2 separate regions of the Homo sapiens genome follow, and region 2 is linked to region 1. Evidence: fine-mapped expression QTL. A gene starts in region 1. The other region holds a variant in brackets. All regions are shown on one strand. Distances are between the middles of the regions. Region 1 holds the start of WIPF3 (WAS/WASL interacting protein family member 3). Region 2 overlaps WIPF3 (WAS/WASL interacting protein family member 3).

The links. PIP is the estimated chance that this variant, and not a neighbour inherited with it, causes the effect.
Region 2: its variant is the best candidate, but not a certain one, in a credible set for the expression of WIPF3 in pancreas (GTEx, PIP 0.53).

The regions. Positions count from the first base shown.
Region 1 is chr7:29,804,573-29,808,961 of GRCh38, forward strand. WIPF3 (WAS/WASL interacting protein family member 3) reads left to right here and starts at 1,936. Exons shown (of 9, transcript NM_001080529.3): 1 at 1,936-2,106. RefSeq lists an enhancer at 1,672-2,581.
Region 2 is chr7:29,879,192-29,883,580 of GRCh38, forward strand. All of the region lies in intron 4 of WIPF3 (WAS/WASL interacting protein family member 3), which reads left to right. Among named protein-coding and RNA genes, the nearest start is that of WIPF3, 75 kb to the left of the region's middle. RefSeq lists an enhancer at 4,041-4,389. The variant G/A (reference allele first, on the strand shown) is at 2,160.

The sequences.
Region 1 (4,389 bases):
ACTGGCTCATGCTTGGGCTGCTCAGGAGATCTGATGGGAACTCTCTAGGCCCATGGCAATGTCTTCTCTAATAGTTTGACTTTTCTTCCTTTTTGAATTAGAATACTAGTGGTTATGTATTTAGTGAGCTTTAGCACTGGAGGTCCAGAGAAGGAGAGTGGCTGGGTCATGTTTTGGGGTTTTGGGTTTTGTTTTTGTTTTAGTAACAATCACCCATGTAAGAGGGCTTATGAATTTTATGTTGGAGAACTGTTCTTCAGGTTCCATACCTGTGGTCATCTATTATGATTCTAAAGGAGGAAAGGGCAAGAGGAACTCAGGACAAACAGGTGGAAAGCAAGTGCCTCATCAGCTTCCACTCACTACACATAGACCTTTCGTCACCTAAATCAAAAGAGAAAACCATGTTCTTGACGACACTGGAGTGAAAGACATCAAAAGTGTATTATTAATCCTTGCTTTCGACACATTGCCCAGCTACAAACATGAGTAATTAAGAGATCAGCTAAGGGCTGCTTGGGGAACATACTTTGACAGCAGCCACTACAGAACTTGAACCTGAATACAGGCTGCAATCCACGTGTGAGATCTTCCCTGCTGGCATTGGCTGCTCCCTCACCTGGGTCCCCAACATTTCACACAAGCCTCAGCACAGCGCTGAGCGCCAGGTTTCTCCTCTATTCCAGACCAGCAGCAACTTTAGAGTTAGACACCTTGCCCTGAGGCCCTGCAGAGTGTCTGGCTCATGGCAGATACTCAAACACCGAGGCTGAGTGAACAGTCCACGAGTACCCGCTTAGCTCCTCCACTAGCAGGAATGCCCAGGACATGGGCAATACAGAATCCTCACCCAATGATCTCAGCACCTACAGCAATGCATTCAGCCTCGGACACAAACTTTCTGCATCCTCCAAGGGCCTGAACAAGAAATGTGACAGAAGCAAGGTTTTCCGTTCTTCAAGCTTATTTCAGGTTTGTTTTTGTTTGTTTCTTTGTTTGGTTTGGTTTGGTTTTTTGAGACAGGGTCTCACTCTATCGCCCAGGCTGGAGTGCAGTGGTTCATTGCAACTTTTGCCTCCTGGGTTCAAGAGATCCTTCCACCTCAGCCTCCCGAGTAGCTAGGACTAGAGAGCGCCACCACACCCGGCTAACTTTTGTATTTTTTGGTAGAGACAGGGCTTCACCATGTTGGCCAGGCTAGTAACTCCTGACCTCAAGTGATCCGTCCACCTCGGCCTCCCAAAGTCCTTGGATTCCAGGCTTGAGCCACCGCGCCCGGCCCTATTTCAGTTTTCAGTCTGCTTTCTCCTCCCTTCGACTCTACCTGGGACATCAATCTACCTCCCCAGGCTACCCGGATAATTCTCTCATCACCTGGCTAATTCACACTCAGTCTTCAGTTTTTCTCGTCGACGTCAGCTCCTCAAGAAGCCCTCCCTGACCTACTCCCCACCCCAAGTTTAGATCAGGTGCTCCCTCTGGGAGCCGGCTCAGGAGGCCTCTGCCTCCTCTTGGTTGTGCTGTAATCGCCCATTGGTCGCTTTCCTTTTCTAGACTGTGAACTCCACGAGGGCAAGAGGTAATCTTGTTCTCTCGTCCCCATCGCTTATGACACCGCCTGGAGCTTAGTAAGGGCTCAACATTTTGGAATAAATTCAAGGAGTGGCGTGTCCCCAGAGTAGCTGTGCTGGGCCGTGTGCCGCCCGCGCAACAGCTCCTATTTGGGGAATTCCAGCCTTAGGCCTCAGTCTCTCCGCAGCTGAGACTTGGGACTCTGTACCCGGGAGGCGCGCCCGCCGACTTGGGACCCGCCTCCAGGGTCCCAGAGCGACCCCGCCCGCCGGGGCCGTGTCCCTGCCGCGGGGCGGCGGCGGCTCCCAGGCAGGAGCCTGCGAGCAGGTGGGGGCGGCGGCCCCGCCTCCGCGTCCCGGCAGCACCAGAGCCGGTGGCCGGGGAGCGAGCCGGGCGCACCGAGCGCAGCTCGGCGGTAGCGGCGCCGCTTGGAGCACGGGCGCTGCGGGACGGAGCCCGGAGCCGGAGGCGGCGGCGGCGGAGACGTCGGCCGGAGCTCGAGTCCAGTCCAGCCCCCGGCTCCGCCACCTGCAGGTAGCGGCTTCCCGCGCGGGTGCGGGTCGGTGCCCGAGGGTGGAAGGAACGGGCGGTGTGGCGGCCGCCGCCCTGGTCGGTCCCGGAGCAGAGTGGCCCGGCCCGGGACAGAGATCCTGAGGGCGTGGGAGGGCCGGGGAACCCCCGCCGGGCTGCAGCCCCGGGCCCAGGAGGTTGTCGACGTGCCGCGCGGCGCTCACGCCCCCCACCCGCACCCTGCCACGCCGCCCCGGCCGGGCCGGGCCGGGCCGGGCGGAAACAAACCGCGGGGTGGGGAGCGAGGTCACCACGGGGTTGCTTGGTGACTTCTCCGGACTGGACTCCCCGGTGAGCAGCCCCTGGCACCGAGGCCGCCTCGGCCTGGTCCTTCGCGACGCTCTCTCTTCTCCGCTTCGCCCCCGGAACAAAAGGCTGGGGTCTCGCTGGGGAGGGGGCTGTCGCGGGAAGGGCTGGGGCGGAGTAAAAGAGAGCTAGGAAATTGCAGAGCCGGAGGTGGCTTGGGGAATACAGAAGGAGCCCCCTAGTGAGGAAGCCAACTCCAGAGATGTGAAGTGACTTGTCCAAGGTCACACAGCTCATGGGGACAGAGCGCAGGTCTCTGGACACCCCTCCCGTGCTCATCTCCAAGCCCCTGGGGTCAGTAGTCAGACTGTGCTCCAGCAATGTACATTTGGCCACAAATGGGTTTAGGGTCCTTTGGAGGATTAGGTGGTGGGTAGGTAGGTGGCAGAGCAGATTTCCCCCAGCCCCTGACACGCACTCTCTGAAGGTGGCGGGGAGGGCGGGCACCCGGCCGCCCTGGACCTGGAGGAGCGCCGCCCGGGCCCCGTGGGCAGGCAGGCACCGGCTCTCAGGAACAGCGCCTTTGGAGGGTGGCGTGCCAGCCGCGTGGGTGTGCCCGTGGCGGGCGCCGGGGCGGCGTGGGGACCGTGTGTGCGCCTCCCTCTGGAAAGAAGTTTCTGCAGGGAAAGGCCAGGAGAGCGGTTCCATGCGCCCTGGGACAGTGTGGCCAATCCCTGACACTCAGGGCGCTTTGTAACTGGCTGTATTGGGGAGGAAAGTTACTCTGTAGCAGGAAGTTAGGCTGTCTCTTCGCCTCTGTGCCTGGGGTCCTTGGCTGTAAATGAGGGCCTTGTTTGGCATGACCAGTGTGATTTAGAAGGTTTGTGCCCCTCCGCCTCCTCCTTTCCAGAATCTTTTCTCACTTCACAGGGAGGACTGGGAGTGCACTTCTTGTGCCCAGCATTAATAGTTATCACTGGGACTCCTGCCTCCCTTCAATTTTTTTTAACTTTATCATTACGAAAGAGGTCAGAGGAGAGGTTGTTTTTGGGCCTTGCAAGGAGATAAACTCCAGGTCAATACCTGGACAGGACATGAGGGAGGCTTCTGGGATGCTAGAAATGCTTCTCACCTTGACCTAAGAATTACTGAAGTTATACCCTTGAGACTTGTGCACTTAACGTAAATTCTACCTCAGTGAAAAAGTAAATAAAAATGTGATGCTAAAGTCCACTCATTGTGGTAACACACAGATTGCTGCAGTTTTCCAGCTAATGCATTTCAAAGATACATTTAAAAACCACAAAAACCAAATCAGAAAAGAAGTGGCGAGGAGGGGCAAAAGAAAGTTAAGAAGTAACTGGAAATGAAACATACACTGCAGATGCCTTTATGTGCATCACCTCCTGTGATTCGCAGCAATTCTTTAACAGAGATATTGTTATTGTGCCTTTTTTACAGATGAGAAAATAAAAGGTCACAGAGGTTAAATTACTTACTCAGGGTAACAGCCTGGGCACACAGACTTCAAATTCTAGACAGGCAACCTTCAACAGGCAATTTGTGGCCACCTGAATCGGGGCAGAGCGGTCAGGGTGACAGACACTTGTAGGCTGGCTTCCTGCCATTGCCCCCTTTTTGTTCCTTTAGGAGTCTCTGTTTTCACGTAATTGTGAGTGTGACATTGTGTCACAGATTGCAGTTACCCAGCAGCAGAAGGAATGGAGGAAGTGTGTGTGTGTGTGTGTGTGTGTGTGTGTGTGTCTAAGAACATACAGTTATAAGAACAGGGGAAAGCCAGCTGGTCTAGCCTGGCAACGCTCTTTTTAGGAGACTTATTGTTCAGAAACCATATAGTACAGGTTGCGAGTTTGCAGTCACTCCAACACATACACAAAGAATAAAGAATATAACCTAGGAAAGATCCGAGAAAACAAAATGTGATTAACAGTAGAGGGAAACATAGAATTTTCACCAGGATGGCAGTCAACTTTTTTACAT
Region 2 (4,389 bases), 75 kb after region 1:
TGGAACCATCTGGGCAATCCACACATGCCAGTAAGCAACATGGTTTTACTGAACGGGCATGATAGAGTAGAAGATCATGTTCTTGGGACCTTAAGCACTAGAAACTTCCAAAGTACAAAATGGTTCTTGAGAAATCTTTTAATTCATCATCCTGTTTAAATTATTCCATTGTAATAGCTTAAAAATGACTTGTAATAGTGTGTAATACTTAGTGATGGCGTGATGGTAGCCCAGACTGCAAAGTGTATATAAACAGAAGGTCCAAATTGTAATAGAACTTCATAGTGACATCACTGTGGATGCATTAGCAATGCATGAGTTGTAATGATTCGGTCATCATATCAGTTAGGTACTGCTGTGTAACGAAACACCCTAAAACTTAAAAGCTTTAAACAATCATTTTTTAGCCTACAATTCTGTGGGTTAGCAGCTTAGAGTAGTCTTGGCTGGGCTCCCTCTTGCATCTATAAAGAACTGCAGGTTGTGTAGGTAGCTTTGCTAATCTTATATTTCTCATATTTTTCCAACCTCTGGAGCCTCAGCTATAACCACTGGCCTGACTCACCTCTATCACGTGGTCTCTCAGTATCCAGCAGGCTGTCTGGGCCTTGTTTTCATGCCAGCAGCAGGGTTCCAAGAGAGAAGACAGAAGTATAAATAAAGTCTCTTGAGGCTTAGTCTTGGAAGTATTACTAGGATGTAACTTGGAAGTCTAAGAAGTATCACTTCCTACCACATTCTCTTAGCCAAAACAAGTCACAAGGATGGGGAAATAGACTTCGCCTCTTGATGAGAGGAACTGTAAAATCATATTTCAAAGATTATGGAATCAAGCATAAGTGGGTAATGAAGGCCATGTCTGTAATCAGTCTACCTCAGTGATTTTTGTTTCAGTGGGCATCAGATGTTTTGAAAATATTGCATTAAAATTGAACAAATACAAATTTACTCTGAGAAAAAAAACCTGTTTTTCCTATTCTTGTTCTCTTTAACCAGCAAGCTGAATAAACTCCAGGAATACCATTAATACAGGAGGAAATACAAAGGCCCAAACCTTCCTCGTACCAGATCTTCCATCATGCGACTTTTCTAACTTTTTCAGTGGCTTCTGTGACTGTTTAATGTTATGGGATGATTATGCTGCCTCACTCACCAATAAAAGTCCAGCAAAGAAAAAGACTCTAGGATATTTTGAGATCCAACTTGAACCTTCTCAGGGGCCATGTTCATTTCCTCATTTTTGCTGAGGGGTTAGCAGGAAAGGTAGAGTACAAGGTCTTCCTCAATAAAGACAGTGGATATTCTTCAGTGTCCTCTTCTTTTTCAAAATTCCCGAGTGCTATCAAACAAATATCCTTTGGAATAGAAGGCTTCCACCAGTTTCTCTTCATAGAAGATGGGAGAAATGGGCCCCAGTCAGGTTTTCATAGGAAGCAGCCAAAAATAGCCAGCAGGAGTCCTACTGGTCTGCTTGTCACCAGTGGGACATAAGTGTCAGATGTTTGAGCCGCTGTAATGGGGAAGACAAGAATTTATCTCTTTAGAGATGGAGGTCCATAAGGAAGTGACTAATGATGCCTGTTCCAGGATGGAAACTCAAGGAGAAAGCCACCAGATAAACACATGGACTGGGTACCATGTCAGGGCAAGGCAGGCCGTGGCTCCCTGCTCCCAGCACTTTCCCAACAGCCCCCTTCTCATCAGAGGAAGGGACTTGAGCCTTTGCTCCCTCTCTGATCTTCTGGCCTACCTTTCTTGGTGGTTCATGCCATCCCCTCCACTCACACTATCCTCCTTGCTGCTCTCACACACCAGCATGTTGCTGCCACTGGGCGCTTGCACCGACTCTCCCTTGGCCTGAAAGGCTCATCCGCAGGTGTCCACGTGGCTCAGTCTCTCCCTTCCTGCAGGTCTCTGCTCAGGTGGCAGCTGATCAAAGTGTCCGTGAGGTCTTCACTTATTATCCCATATAAAGGTTTAGTCCTATCCTTTCATTCCATATCTCCTTTTCCTCAATTTACTTTTCTTGTATTACTCGGCACCACCTGACATATCATGTATTCACTGGTTTATCTGTTTATTGTCTGTCTGATCCATCTGAAGCTAAGCTCCGTGAAGGCAGGGACTATGTTTTGTTCATTGCCATAGAAATGCCTGGC[G/A]CATGGCAGGTGCTCAGTAAATACTTGCTGAATTGCATGTGTGAATGGTAGTGTGGTGGCTGACATTCATTAGGGACCATAGCACAGTGTCATGGGCTCATGGTACTTTTAGGGACCCATGAAAATATTTAAATTTCTTTTAAAATCAGAAGAAAACATATGACCTTTTAGGATCAAAGAATGTATTTGTCTTTGTACCAATGCAGTCATGAATATAAATATTTTTTTAATAGAGAAGAGGCCCACAAAGGCAAAAGTGCCTAGGGACCCTGGAGTCATAATGCAACCTTGGCCTAGAGCTCTAAGGGAGTGAGAATTACAATAAGATATGATGAGTAAACATTATTTCTGGGTTGAATAGAATATGTAATGAGACTTCCAAGGTCTTCTGGAGAACATTCAGATTTGAGGAAGAAGAAATATTTCATCTTTTGCTAAACCTGCATGTTCTAAAAGCTGAATCCTTTCCTATGGGCACAGCATCCCTGATGCCCTCAATCTGGCCTTTCCCGCCACCTCCTGGCCTCCTTTGTGTTTTCTCTGGATTTCTAGGGCTCGGGTTTCCATTGTGAAGGACAGCCTCCTCCCTTACTTCCTTCAACTCCCTCGGAGCTCTCTGTCGGCCCAGGCCTGCCTCCTCCACTTGCCTGCACTTACACCATCAGCCCCTTTCTCCTCTGCAGTCTCACCTTCCTCCCTGAGGGGCATGCCCGCCCTCGCTTCTGCTGCGCATGTTAGGATAAAAATGAGTTTGCCCACATTTCTCATTTGGTTGGTGGCTTCATCAACACAGGATCCCCTACTTTTAACTGACTCACTTTAAGGGTTTTTGAATCTCTGAGACATGGTGTCCTCAGTTACTTAAAAGGTTTGGATAGGCTATTTAAGGGTAGGCTTTGCTCTGTTTTGTAAACTTTCATTATCCCTTTCAATTTCATTCAGCCACTGGGCATGTAGGTAGGCTCTGCCTTGTTTAGGCAGCTGCCTAGGTTCTCCTCGTCATCTTTTTGTATTATATGGAAAAAGGTTTGAGAACTTCTAGGCAGGAATCCCTGAGCTGACACCTGCTAATACCATCCTCACCCTACCTTAAGAACAGCCATTCCATAATGTGGTTGGAATATTATGGTCTAGGTGACTGTCACATTATAGCCAGAGGGGCTCATATTTGGAAAGCCAGATACCAAGGTCTTGCCTACTTAGCTTCACCTGAGTCACCTCTGCTAGGCCGTGCTTTGATTGGCCTGGCTTTTGACATCCAGTACTTTAAGTGTATGGCTTAGCCCCTGATTGGGGTAAACACACAGGAGACTCAAGTACTGCAAATCTCAGAACCCCCAACAGATGCTGGGATTTCTAATCTGAAATGAAAGCTGCAGGTCCCATGCTGCAGCACCCAGGAAGTAGTGGGTGTGAGAAAACATCATTTTTCAAGTGTTGTCCACATGTTGTCATGGTGATTATAAAATATAGGGGAAAACACCCCCCAGAATTCTTATAAAAAGAGCACTAAATCTGGAAGAAATATTTTAATCTGCCTCCTGAGTAGACAGTGATACTCCAAGGACATCTCTAAGCAGTAATTGCAGAACTTCGAGGCAGTAAACAACGAGAGGAACTTTTTCTTATTAGAGAGAGGCAGAGCGAAAAAAGGGTGAGAACTGGCAAAAAGGTGCAAGGCTGTGCGGAGTATAGAGGCCCCTCCTGGGGACGTGCTCCACCTGAGTCTTCCATGAAAACCAAACGCAAATGCTTATCAAGAGCCAATGGTTGTTGTTGAATTTAAAAGAGGAATTGAATTTCAAGCTGGGGCAGATGCAATGAAGGATCTATAGGATGAGAAAGCCAAAACCCTTGGGAATTAGCATAAGTCTTTGGGAAAGGAGGTTTTGAACTTCCAGAGGTCATAGAACTGTGAGGTTCAAGGTCATTGGACCTGGGTTGTCAAGGGCAAATGTCTCCCTCCAGTCTTACCTTATGTATTCAGGGAATCATGAATTTTCTGCTCTCAACACAGAAACAAAGAAAGTCAAATTTCACAAAATGCTGGGAGTGAAGAAAACCTCCCTAGCCAGGAGTGCTGGTTGGTACACCTGAGGGTCCAAATTAGAGCATAAGGGCTGATGGACCTAGCGGGTGTCAGTGAATGAGTTCGTGAGTGTGGCCTTGATTAGGAAGGGCAAAAGACACCCGGGCAGTCCTGGCCCTGGCTGGGATACTAGAGGCCCAA